2 separate regions of the Homo sapiens genome follow, and region 2 is linked to region 1. A link means that fine-mapping ties the variant in region 1 to the expression of a gene that starts in the linked region. Tissue or cell type: whole blood. Region 1 holds a variant in brackets; the other region holds the start of a gene. Each region is shown on its reference strand, or each on the opposite one.

Region 1 (5,380 bases):
GCTTTGTCACTTCCTGGGCCTCCACCCCCTCTCCCTCTTCTCCAGCTTAGCCACTCACTTTCATGACACACCTTGGAACCTGTCATCACCTGGAACTGTACCACCTCTGCAGTCTTTACCTCTGATGTACCATTATCTGATTATAAACTCCTACTTGGCAGATGGATTTGCCTTCTATTTCAGTGAGGAAGTTGAGGTTTCTAGTTGGGAATTTCCTCAACTTTTTGACTTCAGCCAATGACCTTATTTAAACCCATAACCTGATATCCATAACCACTTCTTTTACTCAGTCTTAAATCAATAATTTAAAAAAGTTTTTATTAACACATAATTCAGATAACATACAATTTCCCCATTTAATGCGTACAATTCACTGGTTTTTAGTATTTTCACAGAGTTGTGCAACCATCACCACAATAAATTTTAAATCATTTTCATCACCACAAAGAGAAATCCCTTGGCCATCCGTCCTCATTCCCCCATTGCTCCTAGCTCTAGGAAACCACAAACCTACTTTCTTTCTCTGTGAATTTCCATATTCTGGACATTAAATATAATGGAATAATACAATATATAATCCTTTGTGACTGTCTTTTTTCACTTAACATAACGTTTTCAAGGTTCATCCACACTGTGTCATGTATCAGTTCTTCATTCCTTTTTGTGGTTGAATAATATTCAAGTGTATGCTTATGCCACATTTTATTTATACATTCATTAGTTGATGGACATTTGGGTTATATCTAACTTTTGCCTATTATTAAGAATGCTACTATGAATATTCACACACAAGGTTTTATGTGGACATATGTTTTTATTTCTCTTGGGTATATACCTAGGAGGGGAATTGCTGAGCTGTATGGTAGCACTATATTTAATTATTTGAAAAATTGCCAGACTGTTTTCCAAAAGATGTACTATGTTACATTTCCATTAGGAGTGCATGAGAGTTCCAATTTCTTTGCATTTTTGCTAACTTGTTATTATCTAACTTTTTGATTAGAACCATCATAATCTGCATGAAATAGCAGCCCATTGTAGGTTTGATTTGCATTTCCCTGAGGCTAATGAAGTTGATCATTTTTTTCATGTGCATATTGGCCATTTATATATCTTTTTTGGAAAAATGTCTATTCAGGTTCTTTGCTTTTTTGAAAATTATTTGTCTTTTTATTGTTAAGTTGTAAGGGTTCTTTATATATTCCACACACAAGTCCTTCATCAGATATATGATTTGCAGAAATTTTCTCCCATCCTATGGGTTGCCTTTTTAATTTCTTAATTGTGTGTTTTGAAGCAGGAAAGTTTTTTTTTTAAATGCTATGATATCCAATTTACCTATTCTTTTTTGTTGTTGTTGCTTATATGTTGGGTGTCGTAGCTAAGAAATCATTGCCTACTACAAGGTCATGAAGATTTACCTCTGTTTTTCTAAGAAGTTTATAGTTTTAGCTTTTACACTTAGTTATTGGATCCTATTTGAGTTGATTTTTATACAGATGTGAGGTAGGATCTAACTTCTTTTTTTTCAGATTGTGTCAGCACCATTTATGGAAAGACTTTTATTTTCCCATTGAATTGATTTCCCTTGTTGGAAATCAATTCAATGGGAAAAAATTTCCCTTGTTGGAAATCAATTGACAGTAAGTGTGAGTTTACTTATAGATTTTTAATTTCATTCTATTAATCTGTATGTCTTATCTTATGCCAATACCACACTGTCTTGATTACTGTAGATTTTGTAGTAAGTTTTGAAATGGGGAAGCGTGAATCCTCCAACTTTGTTGTTTGTTTTCAAGGTTGTTTTAGCTCTTCTGTTTCTTGCGCTCTCATATAAATTTTAGGATCAGATTATTGGTCCAGAATTTTGATGGGAATTGTGTTGAATTTGTAGATCAGTTTGGGGAGTATTGCCATCTTAACAATATTAAATTTTCCAATCCATGAACATGAGGTGACTTTCCATTTATTTAGGTGTTCTTTAATTTCTTTCAGCAATGTTTTGTATTTTTCAGAGTATAAGTTTAGTACTTCTTTTGTTAAATTCATTCCTAAGTATTTTATTCTTTTTCATGCTATTGTAAACAGATTTTGTTTTCTTAATTTCATTTTTAGTGTATTCATTGCAAATGTATAGAAACACAATTGATTTTTTAAATATATTTTTATTATACTTTAAGTTCTAGGGTACACATGCACAATGTGCAGGTTTGTTACATATGTATACATGTGCCATGTTGGTGTGCTGCACCCATTAACTCATCATTTACATTAGGTATATCTCCTAATGCTATCCCTCCCCCCTCCCCCCACCCAACAACAGGCCTGGTGTGTGGTGTTCCCCTTGCTGTGTCCAGGTGTTCTCATTGTTCAATTCCCACCTGTGAGTGAGAACATGCGGTGTTTGGTTTTCTGTCTTTGCAATAGTTTGCTGAGAATGATGGTTTCCAGCTTCATCCATGTCCCTATAAAGGACATGAACTCATCATGTTTTATGGCTGCATAGTATTCCATGGTATATACATGCCACATTTTCTTAATCCAGTCTATCATGGATGGACATTTGGGTTGGTTCCAAGTCTTTGCCATTGTGAATACTGCTGCAATAAACATACGTGTGCATGTGCCTTTATAGCAGCATGATTTATAATCGTTTGGGTATCTACCCAGTAATGGGATGGCTGAGTCAAACAGTATTTCTAGTTCTAGATCCTTGAGGAATTCCCACAGTGTCTTCCACAATGGTTGAACTAGTTTACAGTCCCACCAACAGTGTAAAAGTGTTCCTATTTCTCCACATCCTCTCCAGCACCTGTTGTTTCCTGACTTTTTAAAGATCACCATTCTAACTGGTGTGAGATGGTATCTCATTGTGGTTTTGATTTGCATTTCTCTGACGGCCAGTGATGATGAGCATTTTTTTTTATTATACTCTAAGTTTTAGGGTACATGTGCACAACATGCAGGTTTGTTCATATGTCTGTTGGCTGCATCAGTGTCTTTCTTTTTTTTTTTTTTTTTTTTGTGGCGGATTCTCGCTGTCTCCCAGGCTAGAGTGCAGTGGCGCAATCTTGGCTCACTGCAGGCTC[C/T]GCCCCTCCGGGGTTCACGCCATTCTCCCACCTCAGCCTTCCGAATAGCTGGGACTACAGGCGCCTGCCACCTTGCCTGGCTAATTTTTTGTATTTTTAGTAGAGACGGCGTTTCACTGTATTAGCCAGGATGGTCTCAATCTCCTGACCTTGTGATCTGCCCGCCTCGGCCTCCCAAAGTGCTGGGATTACAGGCGTGTTCAATGTCTTCTTTTGATAAGTGTCTGTTCATATCCTTTGCCCACTTTTTGATGGGGTTGTTTGTTTTTTTCTTGTAAATTTGTTTGAGTTCTTTGTAGATTCTGGATATTAGCCCTTTGTCAGATGGAAAGATTGCAAAAATTTTCTCCCATTCTGTAGGTTGCTTGTTCACGCTGATGGTATTTTCTTTTGCTGTGCAGAAGCTCTTTAGTTTAATTAGATCCCATTTGTCAATTTTGGCTTTTGTTGCCATTGCTTTTGGTGTTTTAGACATGAAGTCCTTGCCCATGCCTATGTCCTGAATGGTATTGCCTAGGTTTTCTTCTAGGGTTTTTATGGTTTTAGGTCTAACATTTAAGCCTTTAATCCATCTTGAATTACTTTTTGTATAAGGTGTCAGGAATGGATCCAGTATCAGCCTTCTACGTATGGCTAGCCAGTTTTCCCAGCACCATTTATTAAATAGGGAATCGTTTCCCCATTTCTTGTTTTTCTCAGGTTTGTCAAAGATCAGATGGTTGTAGATGTGTGGTATTATTTCTGAGGGCTCTGTTCTGTTCCATTGGTCTATATCTCTGTTTTGGTACCAGTACCATGCTGTTTTGATTACTGTAGCCTTGTAGTATAGTTTGAAGTCAGGTAGCGTGATGCCTCCAGCTTTGTTCTTTTGGTTTAGGATTGACTTGGCAATGCGGGCTCTTTTTTGGTTCCATATGAACTTTAAAGTAGTTTTTTCCAATTCTGTGAAGAAAGTCATTGGTAGCTTGATGGGGATGGCATTGAATCTGTAAATTACCTTGGGCAGTATGGCCATTTTCATGATATTGATTCTTCCTGTCCATGAGTGTGGAATGTTCTTCCATTTGTTTCTATCCTCTTTTATTTTGTTGAGTAGTGGTTTGTAGTTCTCCTTGAAGAGGTCCTTCACATCCCTTATAAATTGGATTCCTAGGTATTTTATTCTCTTTGAAGCAATTGTGAATGGGAGTTCACTCATGATTTGGCTCTCTGTTTGTCTGTTATTGGTGTATAGGAATGCTTGTGACTTTTGCACATTGATTTTGTATCCTGAGACTTTGCTGAAGTTGCTTATCAGCCTAAGGAGATTTTGGGCTGAGATGATGGAGTTTTCTAGATATACAATCATGTCATCTGCAAACAGGGACAATTTGACTTCCTATTTTCCTAATTGAATACCCTTTATTTCTTTCTCCTGCCTGATTGCCCTGGCCAGAACTTCTAACACTATGTTGAATAGGAGTGGTGAGAGAAGGCATCCCTGTCTTGTGCCAGTTTTCAAAGGGAATGCTTCTAGTTTTTGCCCATTCAGTATGATATTGGCTGTGGGTTTGTCATAAATAGCTCTTATTATTTTGAGATACGTCTCACCAATACCTAATTTATTGAGAGTTTTTAGCATGAAGGGCTGTTGAATTTTGTCAAAGGCCTTTTCTGCATCTATTGAGATAATCATGTGGTTTTTGTCTTTGGTTCTGTTTATATGCTGGATTATGTTTATTGATTTGCGTATGTTGAACTAGCCTTGCATCCCAGGGATGAAGCCCACTTGATCATGGTGGATAAGCTTTTTGATGTGCTGCTGGATTCGGTTTGCCAGTATTTTATTGAGGATTTTTGCATCGATGTTCATCAGGGATATTGTTCTAAAATTCTTTTTTTTTGTTGTGTCTCTGCCAGGCTTTGGTACCAGGATGATGCTGGCCTCATAAAATGAGTTAGGGAGGATTCCCTCTTTTTCTATTGATTGGAATAGTTTCAAAAGGAATGGTACCAGCTCCTCCTCTTACCTCTGGTAGAATTTGGCCATGAATCCGTCTGGTCCTGGACTTTTTTTCGATGGTAGGCTATTAATTATTGCCTCAATTTCAGAGCCTGTTATTGGTCTATTCAGAGATTCAACTTCTTCCTGGTTTAGTCTTGGGAGGGTGTATGTTTGGAGGAATATATCCATTTCTTCTAGATTTTCTAGTTTATTTGTGTAGAGGTGTTTATAGTATTCTCTGATGGTAGTTTGTCTTTCTGTGGGATCGGTTATGATATCCCCTTTATCATTTTTTTATTGTGTCTAT
Region 2 (5,380 bases), not on the chromosome of region 1:
TCACCTTCCACCACACCCCACCTCCAACATTGGGGATTACAATTTAACACGCGATTTAGGTGGCAACACAAATCCAAACCTATCAATGGCACATGTCCATCATCTGTCTGCTGAAGGAGGAAGCAAGAGGAAGCTGTGTAGTGCCCCCTACCTAACAAAACCATAAATGCAATTAATACAATGTCTCCAGAGGAATCCCAAGGATTAGGGCCACCAGCAAAGGCTGTAAGGATGCAGAAGTGGTAATTTTGATGATCTCCAAATGCTACCTAAGGTAGATGGGTCTCATAGAATGTCAGTGGTTCATTGTAAACTTAAGTGATTCCGATTACAGAAGCTGTTCCCAATGTGGCCCGAATGCTCATCTTCCCAGCAGTAGTGGCAAACCCTGGTCTCTGGATGTGCTGGCAGAGCCCAGAGGTTCAAATTATTCACTTGGTGGCAAGTTGATTGTAGTGAATGCCTTATATGCTTGAGAAGGCAGCAATCTGGCTTTTGTGGAATACAGTAGATGCTTATTCTGGAGAATGGCTGGAGAGGAAACCAATACATACCCACTCTAACCTCATGATCTATTACTACAATGAGCACTGTACCTGTCTGTATTTTCTTACTGGCTTTGCTAATTTATTTCATATTCTGCCCACCCCATTACTTTCTATGTGTGTATTTTGAGTGAACGTTATGATTTATTCCATAGAAAACAGAATTTCAAGGTGGCACATGTGTCAGGAATTAGAGCAGGAGGCTGGACTTGGAGCTGGATGGTCACTGGTGAGACTTGGGGTTCTATCCCTGTGGAGTTAGGGTGGGGTTAGGGGGAGGCTTTTTGCTTGTGTGAGGAATGGTTGCATTCTGCTAGATTCTACATTTGTATGTTTGGCATCCACTATATGCACGGCCAAACTAACAGCCAACTTTGTTACATCTCCCCTGCAATCAGCTTTTGCAGGTGCACTACAGTTATAGTACAAGCCCTCTGCCTAATCTTGACTCAGTATCCCCAACAGCACCATTTGTCTAACTCTCACACACCGAGCCAGTATTCCTCCTGCCACAAATCACCTCAGAGCTAGGTACTGGGCAATTAGAGACCATCCCTATAGCTCAGAGCCCACCAAGATTATTCCAACTATCTCATCGCAAGCTGCTTCCTTGCACTGCCCTGGTTTTCCCGGGGAAACCTCATAAAGGCTCGGGGCCAGGCTTCCCACATTGTGCCCTCCACCTCCTGACACTCCCTGGTGCTGCTCTGTGTGGCCCTGCGGGAATGTGCCACCCCTCCTGTTTCTAGGGATCTGTGAGTATAAACTCCTTCCTTTATGACAGTCACTTCTGTGTCTGCATGTCTTACCAAACCTGATTAAAACAAATTCTGGGTGAAAATTTTAGGACAATTAGATGTAAACATTTTTTTTCAAAGTGTGATGATGGAAAGTCGAGTGTGCACTGATGTTAGGAGCCAAAGAGCTAGATTTCGTGTGGCGGGGAGGGGGGTGCTTTCCAGCATTGAAACAACTTTCAAATATTTCAGGAATGTCCCCCCTCTTGAAGTGGGCAGAGCCCACCTTCCACATAGAAGCTCAAAACCCCAGATTCCTGCTTCCTTGGCCTTCCTGGCATCTGGTTTGGGAGCACATGCTTTAATCAGATGCATCTGTTTCGACCTTTGTATGCAGAGCTAGTGACACAAAGGAGCAGGGCTGGAGGAGAATTAACTGTGGCAGCGGTGGCAGCAGCAGGGATGGCTGCTTCCAGGGACAGCGGTGACAGCGGCACCCATGACGGTGCCAGGTTCACATGCAGCTCTGTAGCAGCAGGACCCACCATGCTGGCCGCGGGGCAGAGGCTTCCCTCTTCTCCCTGCTCTCCAAGCAGCCCCTCCAGATTTCTAGGTGCTTCTGTGAACCACCCGTTGTTCCTCAATAAAACCATTCTCCACTTAAAGTAATTGGTAGGTTTTTATTGCTTGCAACCAAGAATCCTGATGGATACAAGCTGTGATTTTCTTTTCTTTTCTTTCCTTTCCTTTCCTTTCTTTTCTTTTTTCTTATTTCTTCCCTCCTTCCCTTCCTTCCTTCCTTCAGTCTCCAAATGAAAAATGTATACATCTAACTTTATATATATGTAAATATGGTAAAATATTAACATTTATTAATTATGAATAGTGGAAATATGAGTGTTTATGGTTTTTTGGTATTTTATGTCTTTTAATTCTCTCAAAAGATGATTCTAGCAATCGCATGCACATGTGTACACACAATGCACGTGTGTGTTTGTGTTTATTTGTGCTAATTGACTCCTCATAGTAAACCTATGAGGCAGGAGCCATTGTTCACATCCTCTTTTTACATCTGAGGAAACTGAGGCATAGGAAGCTGAAGAGGCCTGTCCAGGATTATGCAGCTGTTCAAGAGCAGAGCTAGAAATTCAGCCTCAGCAGTCTGTGGCCGGGTCATGTCCAGGGCCTTTGCTTTTAACAAAATAAGGGAGATGAGCTAGCAAGTAGCTTGAGGGAAAGGCCGAAAGCAGAGTGTTTTTAGGGTGGAGGATGAGCTTCTTTAGGGGCTGAAGGGAAGGAACGAGTGGGGCAGAGAGGGAGGATCTGAGAAAGCCCAGGCTGTTAATAGATGGGGTGATGTCAAGATCACAGTGGGCCAGGATTCGCCATGCACAGGAGGAGACAGGAGTACTCATCTGATACTAGAGAAAAGGAGGCTTCACCGGAAAATCAAAGGCAAGGTCACCTGCAAGGAGGCTGACGGGGTGACAGAGAAGCAGCCACACCGGGTGGCCGCGCAAGTGACCGGTGGTCCTCTAGGGTGGTGGGGGGAGGGGTCTCACAGGGGAGGAGGGCAAGGAGAGAACCGTGGGCTGGCTGGCAGCTCTGTCCTTACTCCAATTTTTCCGATGCTATTTACTGACTTAGAAGGTAAATACATTCCAAGGTTCTTCAAGTTCTTTACAGCTGGGCTTGTTCCAAGGCTGGAATTTGTGAAGTGGATTCACATACAGTGAAGCTGTATTGACAGACAGACCCAGGACCCAGGACCCAGAACCTGTGGGTGCACTCAGGGGCCCCAGGCAGTGATCCTGGAGCCCAGGGGTCCAGAGAGCAGGGAAGGGAGCATCGTGGTGACTGGACAGAGCTGCATCTGTCCCCACCGGACATAGGCTGGAGAGTCACAGGCTCCTCCTCCTTCCCCTCCAGAGAGGCTGTGTGTGTGTGTGTGTGTGTGTATGTGTGTGTGTGTGTGAGAGAGAGAGAGAACAGCGTGAGCCTGTGTGCTTGTGTGCTGAGCCCTCATCCCCTCCTGGGGCCAGGCTTGGGTTTCACCTGCAGAATCGCTTGTGCTGGGCTGCCTGGGCTGTCCTCAGTGGCACCTGCATGAAGCCGTTCTGGCTGCCAGAGCTGGACAGCCCCAGGAAAACCCACCTCTCTGCAGAGCTTGCCCAGCTGTCCCCGGGAAGCCAAATGCCTCTCATGTAAGTCTTCTGCTCGACGGGGTGTCTCCTAAACCCTCACTCTTCAGCCTCTGTTTGACCATGAAATGAAGTGACTGAGCTCTATTCTGTACCTGCCACTCTATTTCTGGGGTGACTTTTGTCAGCTGCCCAGAATCTCCAAGCCAGGCTGGTTCTCTGCATCCTTTCAATGACCTGTTTTCTTCTGTAACCACAGGTAAGAAAGGTACCCAAGGCTTATGTTGAGGGCGGCATGCATGTGGAGAGCTTGTGGATATGGGGTCAAAGAAATACTAGCAGTTTCTGGGTACTCAGGAGGGGGTTATGTCTGAATGCTGGATGTCACCTGCTCCTAGAAATATTTTAGTCTCCTGGTTGTCCCTGCTGGAGCTGTCCACAGCCAGGTGACGATGAACACCTCCTGGCTAGGATGGCTAGCCCAGTCTCAGGAATAGTGGCTTTGTTACACTGTATCTGCTCCTATGTCTTTACTACTGCTGTCCATTCTTTTGTTCATTTATTTACTCATTCTGTAAATTGTCTATGTCCTTTAAAAGGGCTAAAAGACAGCAATGCTATTTACTGACTTAGAAGGTAAATACCTTCCAAGGTTCTTCAAGTTCTTTACAGCTGGGCTTGTTCCAAGGCTGGCATTTGTGAAGTGGATTCCTCCATCAGCTGGTGTGGTTGTTCAGATGACCTTCAAGATCCCACCCAACCTTGAGTGTTAAACTTCTGTGATTGAGCAAAACAGATATAAAAGCTAGAATTACACTCTCTAGCCCCTAAGCACCTTGAGTGCATTTATTTGGAAGAAGAAATCATACTGGTTTCTCTAATGGAGGGGCTTCTTTGGGAGTGTAATGTTGCCAGTTGTGAAAAAGCTGAGACCTGTATGCTTGGGGAGGTTCTGGACAGCAGAAAGGAACCAGGTGGGATGGAAGCAGCCTTTTGGGAGAAGGAAATGTTAGTAAAAAGAGGAGAATGTGGACTGGTGGGTGAGAAGTTGAAAACAGAATTAGTAGAACCATGGACAGGGAAGTGAGCTCAAATCACCTTGACCTCCACGGAACCAGGATTCAGGCAGGCTAGAGATGCTGCAGTGAGTGTGGGGGTGGGGTGGGGGTGGCCTGGAACTGGTGTACGTGAGCAGCGACACAAGCCCAGTGGGGACACTGATGTCCGAGCACTTTACGTATGCAATCTCTTTTACATAGGCTTCTCTGTGTACCCCATTCACCCAGACCCACTTTACAATTAGGGACCTCATCCCACTCTCTCCCCTTCCCCAAATCTGCCAATCCAGCCACTTAGAGGGTCAAAGTGTGCAGCTCTTTTTTTTTTGACATCTTCCTAACCAGAGGTGGAAGTTCCCTCTAATTACTGTCAATCACCTGGAACAATTCCTCCTTTGGTTTCCAGTGACAAATTAAATGAAATGATATAGTGGGCTTATCACAGGGGATGCAGGTTTGAGGCATCTTGCTGGGAATACATCCTCTAGAGTCACTGCATCTTATTTGCACATTCTTCTGGGGGTTCCCGGGTGGCTCTCCTTGGATCTCTAAATGATGCAATGTTAGCATGCTTGGATTCCTATTCTCACTAATGGAGAAAAAAAAATCTCCTTTTTAAAAAATGCACTTGGTTAAAAGGTGAAACAGATGATAGCTTTGGAATTTGCAACTATGATATTGGTTGGCTGGATGAGAAAGTGAATCTGCACTAGAGGAACCTGCTAGAATCTGGGATCCAGGTGGGCCTAGCTTTGGGGTGAGGTGCCTGTCCCCTCTCCTCACTTGTCCTCAACAGACCTCAGTCCTGATGGTGGCTTAGCAATGACAGACACAGTGCTAGGGTCTACGGAACACAGGTGAGTACTGGCTGAATTGCTAATACGAAATCGCCCCCCTAG

The links. PIP is the estimated chance that this variant, and not a neighbour inherited with it, causes the effect. A credible set is the group of variants that fine-mapping cannot tell apart.
Region 2: it holds the start of CHRNA2, and the variant in region 1 is the best candidate, but not a certain one, in a credible set for the expression of CHRNA2 in whole blood (TOPMed, PIP 0.51).

Annotation. Positions count from the first base shown.
Region 1 is chr7:106,724,900-106,730,279 of GRCh38, reverse strand. No RefSeq gene overlaps it. Among named protein-coding and RNA genes, the nearest start is that of LINC02577, 47 kb to the left of the region's middle. The variant C/T (reference allele first, on the strand shown) is at 3,090.
Region 2 is chr8:27,477,126-27,482,505 of GRCh38, reverse strand. It overlaps CHRNA2 (cholinergic receptor nicotinic alpha 2 subunit), which reads left to right and starts at 3,245. Exons shown (of 7, transcript NM_000742.4): 1 at 3,245-3,682.